Linked DNA regions of Homo sapiens. The protein of the gene in region 1 purifies or fractionates together with the protein of each later gene. This does not show direct contact. Each region holds a gene or a part of one and is shown in the gene's direction. Other genes may lie near its edges.

Region 1 (3,654 bases):
GCTTTTTCTTCTCTTTCCTCTAGCGTCAAAGGAAAATACAGAAGGATCGCTTAGTGGCAGAGTTCACAACATCACTGACAAACTTCCAGAAGGTCCAGAGGCAGGCTGCTGAGCGAGAGAAAGAGTTTGTTGCTCGAGTAAGAGCCAGTTCCAGAGTGTCTGTAAGTATTTTAAAAGACATTCTAGAAATGAACATGGTTACTTGCTAAGGGTCCCATAAAAGTCTATAGTAGCATAATTTTTTAAGTCATAAAGATCTGTGAATATCTTGGAAATCAGCTCTTGAATATTTATTTTTATGCTTTCCTGCTCCATTTTTAGAAAAGGATGATAATTTTGTATTACGGTGGTGATTTTTTGTGTCATAGTACAGAAGATTACAGAGTATATAAAAATATAGAGACATATTTTGTCAAAAAAGATTAGGGATCAAATCCTGAGTAGTATTCTCACATCGTCTTGGTACTGAGGCTTTCTGCTTGTGTACACGCTAGTGTAGAAAGCACTTTCCTCCTGGATTACACCAAGATGACGGAGATGAATGGCGCAAGTATGTTGTATCAATATTGAAAATGAACATGAGCCTGGAGAAAATAAATGAAAGGAAGCTTTACAATAGAATTTTGAATTAATCTAATTTTAAATTCCCTTAGAAACTATCATGAGTTATTTTCTTATTCATTAACATATGGATTCCAAGACTACATTAAGCTTTAACTAAATAATACTTATTTGATCCTTGAGAATATTTAGTGAATTCCTTTCTTGTCTACTTAGAATATAAAATTACTTATAATTATATTATTACTTGAAGCAGTTGACCTGAAAAATTAGAACAAGAACTTCTTTCTCTCTGTCTCTACACACACACACACATACACACAGACACGTACATAAATCAGTTTAGTTTATTATAAGGGAAAATATGAGTGTTTATTTTTTCTCATTTTTGCTTTTTTTGCCCCTTCTCATTCCATCCTGTTACTAAATTATTCAGGGCAGTTTTCCTGAGGACAGCTCAAAAGAAAGGAATCTTGTATCCTGGGAAAGGTAAGAAATACAAAACATTTTACAGATCAAAAGGTAATTTTTCAAAGTTTATACATTAAGGTCCCTGGAACAGAATTAAAGCTTTCAATATATTATATCATAAATATCCTAAGTTGTTTATATGTTGAAAACAGAGTAAATTTGAAAAAAATTTTAAGTAATTATAAAGTATTTATTACAAAATATATAAAGTTTTCCAAATAAATGTTTATGGACTTAATTATTAATATAGACATTCCCTTATATGAGGTTTAAATCAGCTGAGAAGAAATACCCAGTTGACAGATACAGCTTCCAATAATTAAGTAATAACTCTAAACTCACATTAGCTAAAATGATATAAGTGAAATGAAAAATGAATAAATTTTATTAATATATCTGTTATATTCTTAGAATTTTTTTGAGTAGTTCTGTGACTTTGGAGAATAAAATATCCTATTTAATGAATATATCTTAAATAGGAAATGAGTCCCATTGTTTTGAATACCAATCTTTGTTTTTTTCCACATTCATTTTTTTCTGTTAGCCAAACTCAACCTCAAGTGCAGGTGCAGGATGAAGAAATTACAGAGGATGACCTCCGTCTTATTCATGAGAGAGAATCTTCTATCAGGCAACTTGAAGTAAGGCTTACATTGTAGACTTGGGCTGCTGCTCTGGTCTTAGTGAGTTTGTTCTCAAGATGCTTAGGTAATGCTGGGAGAATGCATGAGACAGAAAAATTTTGTTTTCTTTTTGAGACAGTCTCCCTCTGTCACCCAGGCTGGAGTGCGGTGGTGGAATCTCGGCTCACTGCAACCTCCGCCTCCCAGCTTCAAGCGATTCTTGTGCCTCAGCTTGCTGAGTAGCTGGGATTACAGGCACGTGTCACCCCACCTGGCTAATTTTTTGTACTTTTAGCAGAGAAAGGGTTTCACCATGTTGGCCAGGCTGTTCTCAAACTCCTGGTCTCAAGTGATCTGCCTGCCTTGGCCTCCTAAAGTACTAGGATTATAGATGTGAGCCACCATGTCTGGCCCAGAGAAAGAAAATTAATGTATCAGTTTGGTAGCATTTGTAATGTATGAGTTGGAATAATTCCTTTTTTAAAAAAATAATATTGTCCTTACTGTTTGTGCTAGGACGAGGGATCATACTCCCTCCTACTGCAGCTTTTTAAAAATTATTATTGTTATATCAAGCCATCTATGGACCACCTTAGTATTGAGAAAATACCAGTGTAGAGATAAATGTCTGTCCAAGAGTCTGGATGTCTTCCCAGAGCACATGATACACATCATACCTGCATGAGTAAGACCTTTTATAAGGCCTTCAAAGAATTTTATTTCTCTTTACTATGTTTATGACATCAAAGAGATCTAAAGGATTTATTAAGTCATAGTTCTTATGGAACCTACTTAGTTCCTAGAAAGAAGGCTAATAATAGCTAACAATGGCTACAATTTATTGAAGACCTTCCATGTGCCAGGCACTTGTGGGATGAATTCTTTATGTTAATTATCTCATTTAGTCCTTATAAAAACTTTATGAAGCAGTTAATTGTGTCATTGAAGAAAAGTAAATTTATATTTAATCACCAAGTTTATAACTTCTTTATTCAGTAGTGACATTTCACTAATCCACTGCATGTTCAAATTATTAATGTGAGACTTTAAATTTACACCTAATGTTTTATTACTTTAAATTGTCAAATTGATGTGTAAATTTTACTAGAAATACATGCTAAGAATATTTTATACCCTTGTAAGTAGATACTGCTTGTGATAACAAAACTATCAGGTTGTATAAAATGAACTCAGCAATCCATGGCTCTTCTCTATTATAGATCCTTCATTTCCATTCATTTCCATCCTGCCTCGCTCACTTGGTATTTTTAATGCCACAAACTGATTTTAGAGAACTGGTGGCTATTGTTCAAATTCTTCTTAATTATTGTCAAATATTTTCCTGATATTTCCAAAGTTTATGTATTATATTTGTGTATTATAGATGCATGCTCACCCATGTGTGAGTAGTGGTTTGGGTTTTTAAAATTTTTCCTCTTTTATGGAATGGGGACTGAATTTCTGATTATAATAATATATGCGTTTTCTCTTAGGCTGATATTATGGATATTAATGAAATATTTAAAGATTTGGGAATGATGATTCATGAACAAGGAGATGTAATAGGTAAGACCTGCTGACTTAGATTTTGGAGGTGAGAGCAAGCTACATGCACTTTACCTGCTGTAACTTTCTCACAGAAGAGTAACCACTTTCTGTCCCTTTTTTGGTTTCCCTGGAACCAAAAGCATGGTCTATAAAACACAGTAAGCATCACCCTTGGCATTATCTAAAACAGATCTCATTTTTAACTCGTGCTGGTTGAAATAACCAGCTTCATTTATTTCAGAAGCCCAAATTTAATCAGGGCCTATTGCTGCCAAGACCATGGAAGGCACCATGAAACATTATTCCAGCTTATTTCCAGGGCCTCTGGTTTTAGTCTTACTCCAATTTATTTGTCATCATGCTAAGCACTTTTGGGGAAACTTGTGGTATATGTAACTGTGCATGACATCTTGTCTTTTAGGTATTAGGGAATAGGTAGACATTTGCCTAA
Region 2 (3,654 bases), on another chromosome or scaffold:
CTTGCAAAGCATTAATATCCTGGAAGATGATCAATAAATGCTGACAGTTGATTGACTGATATCTGAGATATGTCAGGTAAATACCTCAGTCCTGGACAGAGAGCCCCTAAGTCACATCTGCCTTTGTGTAAGATGAAGACTGAAGTATGGAAATGTATGTAGTAAAATCACCTCTCGGAACTTGTTTGTAATTCATACAATCTATGTCAATTTTGAAAAATGTATGTAAAGCAGAGAAGGTTGTAGCCAAATTCAATGTATAGTATGCAAGAGTATATTATTTAATAATTTTTAATTGATGCAAATCCCATTAATTTTATAGTTTTATTTTTACATGATTTTAAACTGAAACTATTTATATTTCCTAAGTTCCCCTGTGTTTCTTTCTCACAATCACTGCTGAACGTAAATTTGTTGTTCACTTAATGGAATCACTGTTAAGGACACAGTCACTTGAATATGATTGCTTTTTAAAAATCAAGTCCAGGCGTGATATACTAGGATCACAGTTTCATGGCATGTTGGTCATAATCCTGAGAAAATAGTGACAAAATTATTATTTGTAGATATTAAATACCAGTTTAATAATATGTGTGGAAATCAGATTAAATAGTACATAAAGCCCACCCTAATAACAAGGGCAGGAAAAATTACTTCAAGAAAAACAATAGTAAACCTTAAATTAAAAATAATACAAATAAATAAGCTTTATGAATACATTTTTAAATTTAAAATGTATTGTCTCAATAAATTCCACTGCTGAGACTGTAATTGTATCACTTTCTCCTTATATTCTTCATTGATTATTAGTATATTAGACACCAGAACTGAATAAAATTGACTGTTTCAAGAGAACTCCTTTTTGATGTTTATTATATTATGAAGTTTGATAACTGATTGGTTAGAATAATATATAAATTACTTTTAAAATCTTTTAAAAGTTTTGTTCCTCTTTCCTATTATACTTTTTTGGTAATAGCTTTATTGAGATAAAAGTCACGTACCATACAATTCACCCACTTAAAGTGTACAATTCAGTGAGTTTTATTATATTCACAGAGTTGTGCAACAATCACCACAATCAATTTTAGGATATTTTCATTAGCCCAAAAAGAAATGCTGTGCCCTTTTGCAGTCATCTCCCATTTTCTTTATCCCCTCAGCCTCTAAGCAACTGCACTCCTATAGATTTGTCTATTCTGGACGTTTTCTGTAAATGGAATCATATAACATATAGCCTTTTGTGACTGGCTTCTTTGACTTAGCATAATGTTTTTAAGATTCCTCAACGTTATAGTGCATATCAGTGCTTCATTTTTTTTTTTTTTTTTTTTTGAGACGGAGTCTCCCTCTGTTGCCCAGGCTGGAGTCCAATGGTGCGATCTCGGCTCACTGCAACCTCCACCTCCTGGGTTCAAGTGATTTTCGTGCCTCAGCCTCCCAAGTAGCTGGGATTACAGGCGTACACCACCACGCCCAGCTAATTTTTGTATTTTTAGTAGAGATGGGGTTCCACCATGTTGGCCAGGCTAGTCTCGAACTCCTGACCTCAGGTGATTCACCCACCTCGGCCTCCCAAAGTGCTGGGAGATCTTCATTCCTTTTTATTGCTAATAATATTCCCTTATATTGATATAACACATTTGGTTTGCCCATTTATCAGTTCATAGATGTTTGGGTTTTTTTCTACTTTTGGCTATTTTAAATACTACTGCTATGAGCATTAGCATACCAGTTTTTGTTTGAGCATGTTTTTATTTCTCTTTGGTGTATACCTAAAGGTAGAATTGCTGAGTATTGTAGTAACTCTCTGTTCAGCCTTCTGAAGAACTGCCCAGCTGTTTTCCAAAGTGGTTGTACAATTTTTACATTCTCACCGGCAATGTATGATGATTCTAATTTCTCCACATCCTCACCAACACTTAATATTATCTGCCTAGTGGGTATGAAATATTATCTCATTGTGTCCTATTATTCTTTTTTGACACTGTATCCCTAGCACTTGTGTTTATTCAATTAATATATGAAAAAGCATTGGTTTTCATGTGTGTTTCTCAGTGTACAATTATAGTAAACATATCTTTAGTATCATTATCCTCTAAACCAAATAAATTATTACTATTACTATTATCATTATTATTTTGAGACAGGGTCTGGCTTTGTCACCCAGGCTGGAATGCAGTGGCACGATCAGGGTTCTGCAGCCTCCTCCTGGGCTCAAGCAATCCCCCCAAGTAGCCTTCAGAGTAGCTGGTATTACAGGCATACACCACCACGCCTAATTTTTTTTTTTTTTTTTTTTTTTTTTGTAGAGATGGGGTTTCACCGTATTGCCCAGGCTGGTTTCGAACTCCGGGGCTCAAGTGATCCTCCCTCCTCATCTTCCCAAAGTGCCAGGGTTACAGGCGTGAGCCACCATGCCCGGCCATAAACCAAATACATTATATTATAAATGTAATGCTTGTCTGTTACTTGTTAGCTAGAATATTACTCAAGAAATATTTATTTAAAAAATGACCTAATGCATTTCCTTGAATATTAATTGGTTTTGAACATTTCATGTGGTCATTGGCCATTTCTTCTATTGGGAATTATCTATTTCTATTCTTTGTTTTTCTATAATGTCTCTTTTTCTTACTAGTTTGTCAAAGCTTTTTATATAATACAGACATCAGGTCTTTTGTCTTAAAGGATACTGCAGATGTTTTTTCCCAGTCTGTTGCTTGTTTTTTAACCTTGTTTTTGATGTCTTATGTTCAAGTTTTAAATTTTTATATAATCAAATATGTTAATCTTTTTCTTTCAGACTTCTGGAGTTGTGTGTTGTTTAGGAATAACTTACCCATCTTAAGAGTTAACTATTTATATATTTTCAATCTTTGTGATTTCATAACAAAATATGTCTAAGGTCCCATTTTCCTTTAAGTACTGCTGTGGCCATACTCTTCAGATTTTGACCTGTGATCTTCCCAGTGTCTTTCATTTCAAAATAGTCTAATCACCTTTATTTACATTTAACATAAAAGTTAATGAGAAGGATGTTTTTTGTTTTTTGTGAGGTTTTTTGCTACAGGGTCTCCTTTTGTCACCCAGGTTGGAGTGCAGTGGCATGATCATAGCTCACTCTAACCTCAAATTCCTGGGCTTAAAAGATCCTCCCATATCAGCCTGCTGAATAGCTAGGACTACAGGCATGAGCCACCATGCCTGGCTAATTAAATTTTTTTTTTTTTTTTTTTTTTCCCATAGAGACACGGTCTTGCTATGTTGCCAGTGCTGGTCTTGAACTCCTGGGCTCAAGTGATCCCCCCACTTTGGCCTCCCAAAGTGCTGGGATTACAGGTGTGAGCCACTGCACCCAGCTGAGAAGAGTATTTTAAAACTTCCTTTTTCCATCGCATTATGGTCAGAGAATATGACTTGTGTAATTTCTATTTTTTGGAATTTATTAAATGTCCTTTGTGGCTTACCCATAAAGGAAAATAAAATAAAATTTGCTGTCTAGTTTCAAAGTTCTAGATTTTTTTGTGTGTTTGGCTTCTCCATCTCTGAAGGGTATGTTAAATCCTCCCTATGATTTTGATGTAACTGTTTCTCATAATTTGCGCAGCTTCTGTAAGATACTTTAAGCTATATTATTAGGTATTTAAACAT
Region 3 (3,654 bases), on another chromosome or scaffold:
CAAAGGAGAGACACGTAAAACAGCCTTTTGTGTTTGGAATGCCTTTTCCAGAAGATCCCTTGATACGAGAGCCGCATGTTTGCTATTCTTGATGCCCTGCTGGTATCGTGTGAGTGTTCCAGTCTGTCTGTCCACCCTCCTACAGAGTGACATCTGGGCTGTGTTCAGCTTGGGGCTGTCACGGAGCCTTCCTGCGCAGGTCCATCTGTGGATGCAGGCGCCTTCTCTCCTGGATGAAATACTAAGAGTGGAATTGCTGAGTCATAGGTGGTCGCATGTTTGTTTAGGAGCAGCTGCCAGACCTTCTTTGCAAATGGTTGAGCCATTTACACTTCCACCAACACTGTGTGAGAGTTCTGTTGCTGTACATCCTTGCCAACATTTGGTATTGTCATTCTCTTTAATTTTAGCCATTCTGGTAGGTGTGTAGTCATCTGTCATTTGGAGTTTTAATTTGCCTTTGTCTGGTGACTGGTGATGAGCACAGAGCTCTTTTCAGCGTGCACTGTGTTTGTGTGTGTGTGTGTGTGTGTGTGTTATGGGATTGGAGTAGGCAGTCTGTGTGTGTGTGTGTGTGTGTGTTACGGGATTGGGGGAGTACGCAGTCTGTGTGTGTGTATGTGTGTTATGGGATTGGGGGAGTAGGCAGTCTGTGTGTGTGTTACGGGATTGGGGGAGTAGGCAGTCTGCGTGTGTGTTACGGGATTGGGGGAGTAGGCAGTCTGCGTGTGTGTGTGTGTGTGTGTTATGGGATTGGGGGAGTAGGCACTCTGTGTGTGTGTGTGTGTGTGTGTTATGGGATTGGAGTAGGCAGTCTCTGTGTGTGTGTGTGTGTGTGTGTGTTATGGGATTGGAGTAGGCAGTCTGTGTGTGTGTGTGTGTGTTATGGGATTGGGGGAGTAGGCAGTCTGTGTGTGTGTTACGGGATTGGGGGAGTAGGCAGTCTGCGTGTGTGTGTGTGTGTTATGGGATTGGGGGAGTAGGCTGTGTGTGTGTGTGTGTGTGTGTTACAGGATTGGGGGAGTAGGCAGTCAGCTTGGTTGCATGTTGGAAGTTACTCATGCAGTCGCTCTTGCTTCTGACTGGCTTGAGTTCCAGAGCTGTTGGCTGCGTGGAGTTTGACCCCTTCCTTAGTAGCAGCGCTTTGAGTAGTGGGCAGAGTCTCAGGGTGTTCTGTGTGGTTGGAGCAGGCTGGTGTGCCGGGCCTCTCCCTTGGTACAGGTTGGTACAGGGAGCATAGCCCAGTCTGGAGTGAGGCTACCAGGGGACTAAGACCTTGCTTTGTCACATGAGATCTGTAGGTGAGTCCAAAGACACAAGTGTGCTGCGTGGCAGTGTCGCTGGCGTTGCTGTGGCCTCGGATGGAGGCTCTTGGGTTCCCAAAAGAGTGCCTGCTGATGAGCAGAAGGTCCCAGCAGGTTTGTGGTTAGTGATTACACAGCCACAGGGCACACTTCCTCTCACAGAGAGATCTGAAACACAGCCTTCTGTGTTGGCACTCTTCTCTCCCAGAAGAGCCCTTGTGGATAGGAGCCGCATGTTTATACTCTTTGTGCCCTGCCTGCAGCGGGGTTCCTGAACACTCGTTCCACATGTCTTGAAGAAGGCTTGTTATCAGCAGGGGCTCAGGAAGAGGACCTTCATTTGGTAATTCCACATCAGAGGTTCTTGGTGCCACACCCCTCACTGGTGCCCACCCTGCCCTGCTGGACTAATATTTACACTGCCTGATTCTCAGTGACTGACTTGTCTCTTGCCTCTTTCCTGCAGCTTGTTCTCAGAACACAAACAAAACCTGTGAAGAGTGCCTGAAGAACGTCTCCGTAAGTAGCACGTGGACTAGAGACCAGAGTGCCGTCCAGACCGTCCAAAGGCACACGGGCTTTCTCTAGGTCCAGGGATTCGCTGGGATGTGTGGAGGGCTCTGTTGTTTGGGATTTGGGGGGATGTTTTTTGGAATCGTTATCAAATGTTATTTTAGCCATTTCAGGTATATTAAACCTTCTCATGAAAACTGCAGTTACTGTCTGAGCATGGTCAGTATCCATGATTTCACTCCTATGCAGATGGGGCCAGCACTGCGTGGCCAGTCTTCCTAACGAGGCCCATAGCGAGAAATTTGGCTGTCCGCAAAGCTACACCCTCAGGTTGTGAGCCCGTGTTTTCCCAGGCTGTCGGGCTGCAGCAGAGACTGCTTTCTCAGCTGCTCACACAGGATTGGAAGGGGCACAGCAAGGAGAGAGAGGCACCAGCCCTCTGGGCCGGTGGGCCAGGCTGTCCATAGCACTCTCTGGTCGTGACCTGGGGCTCAGGTTTGGATTTTAACTACCTGTGTGACCTTCAACAAGAGGGTAGCGGTCTGGAGCAAAGTTCCCTAAGCCTCCACGGCATGAGGTGGGGCCCGAGACTCCCCGGGGTGCCTTCCCGATGGAGACTGATGCAGATGCCCACCTGGAAGAAGGAGCACCCGTGGTGGGGAAGCAGCATCACAGTGCAGGTCTTGTTAAAGACGTGTGAACAGGGCTGGGTGCAGTGGCTCACGCCTGTAATCCCAGCACTTTGGGAGGCCGAGGCAGGTGGATCACGAGGTCAGCAGTTGGAGACCAGCCTGACCAACATGGTGAAACCCCGTCTCTACTAAAAATACAAAACAATTAGCTAGGCGTGGTGGCGGGTGCCTGTAATCCCAGCTACTTGAGAGGCTGAGGCAGGAGAATTTCTTGAAACCGGAAGTCGGAGGTTGCAGTGAGCCAAGATTGTGCCACTGCACTCTAGCCTGGGCAACAAGAGCAAAAAACTGTCTTTAAAAAACAAAAACAAAAACAAAAACGTGTGAACAGGGTCCTTTGGTTTTCTCTGCGTGGTGGCCTGCGCCTGGGCCAGCCTGGCTGGCACCTCTTGGGCTTGCCTTGCCACGCAGCTCTTGGTTCGGCAGCACCCAAGTCTCCTCGCAGCGCTATGAAATCAGCACGGGAAACCTGAGGGAAGGCCCACGGCAGCGGGAAGTGGTTAGGCAGAAAACAGCATCCTGTGGGGCCTTTTTCTTAGGATTCCTGATCTCGCCCACCCCTTGCCCCTTCCAGTCAGGAGTTTACCAGGTTTTGAGAACTGCAGGGCCAGAGGCTTCCTTTCCCCGGCAATGAGGTTTCATGATATGAGGAGGCCGGGAAAGATGTATTCGATGATTTCTATTCTAAGGCATGAGCCATGTTCTTAAAAACTCTTCTTCCTCCACGAGACCGTAGCGTAGGTTTGAGGAGGCCGGGAAAGATGTATTCGATGATTTCTATTCTAAGGCATGAGCCATGTTCTTAAAAACTCTTCTTCCTCCACGAGACCGTAGCGTAGGTTCGAGACACACCCTGTCAGTTTGTGGGACTTAAGTGGATACTTGCATTTGCTGATTAAAAATTGAAAGACGCTGTTTCTGTGGTTTCAGATCTTGACATTGGTGATGTTGAACCTGCTCTAATGCGCCTGGTCCTGGTGCATTTTCTAGATGGTGCTTCTTTTTAGTCTCTGGATTTTTCTATTGGAAGTCATTTCAGCTTTAAACATAGCTCACTATTGTATGTGGCTTTGTAGCCTAGAGTGCGTTTTTGCCATAGTACCCTGTGTAACCCTCACCACCCTGGGCAGGGTGTGGTGATGACA

Evidence for each region.
Region 2: the proteins of STX7 (region 1) and VAMP4 purify together in Homo sapiens (affinity purification with mass spectrometry; 5 studies listed by BioGRID and IntAct, with this or other methods). This does not show direct contact.
Region 3: the proteins of STX7 (region 1) and PTTG1IP purify together in Homo sapiens (affinity purification with mass spectrometry; 4 studies listed by BioGRID and IntAct, with this or other methods). This does not show direct contact.

Annotation. Positions count from the first base shown.
Region 1 is NC_000006.12:132,467,970-132,471,623, reverse strand, and holds part of STX7 (syntaxin-7), read left to right. Parts: intron 1-23; coding exon 24-161; intron 162-997; coding exon 998-1,050; intron 1,051-1,576; coding exon 1,577-1,673; intron 1,674-3,148; coding exon 3,149-3,221; intron 3,222-3,654. UniProt on the Homo sapiens protein: May be involved in protein trafficking from the plasma membrane to the early endosome (EE) as well as in homotypic fusion of endocytic organelles. Mediates the endocytic trafficking from early endosomes to late endosomes and lysosomes.
Region 2 is NC_000001.11:171,731,949-171,735,602, reverse strand, and holds part of VAMP4 (vesicle-associated membrane protein 4), read left to right. Parts: intron 1-3,654. UniProt on the Homo sapiens protein: Involved in the pathway that functions to remove an inhibitor (probably synaptotagmin-4) of calcium-triggered exocytosis during the maturation of secretory granules.
Region 3 is NC_000021.9:44,863,564-44,867,217, reverse strand, and holds part of PTTG1IP (pituitary tumor-transforming gene 1 protein-interacting protein isoform 1 precursor), read left to right. Parts: intron 1-1,770; coding exon 1,771-1,823; intron 1,824-1,829; exon of another isoform or gene 1,830-3,250; intron 3,251-3,348; exon of another isoform or gene 3,349-3,425; intron 3,426-3,654. UniProt on the Homo sapiens protein: May facilitate PTTG1 nuclear translocation.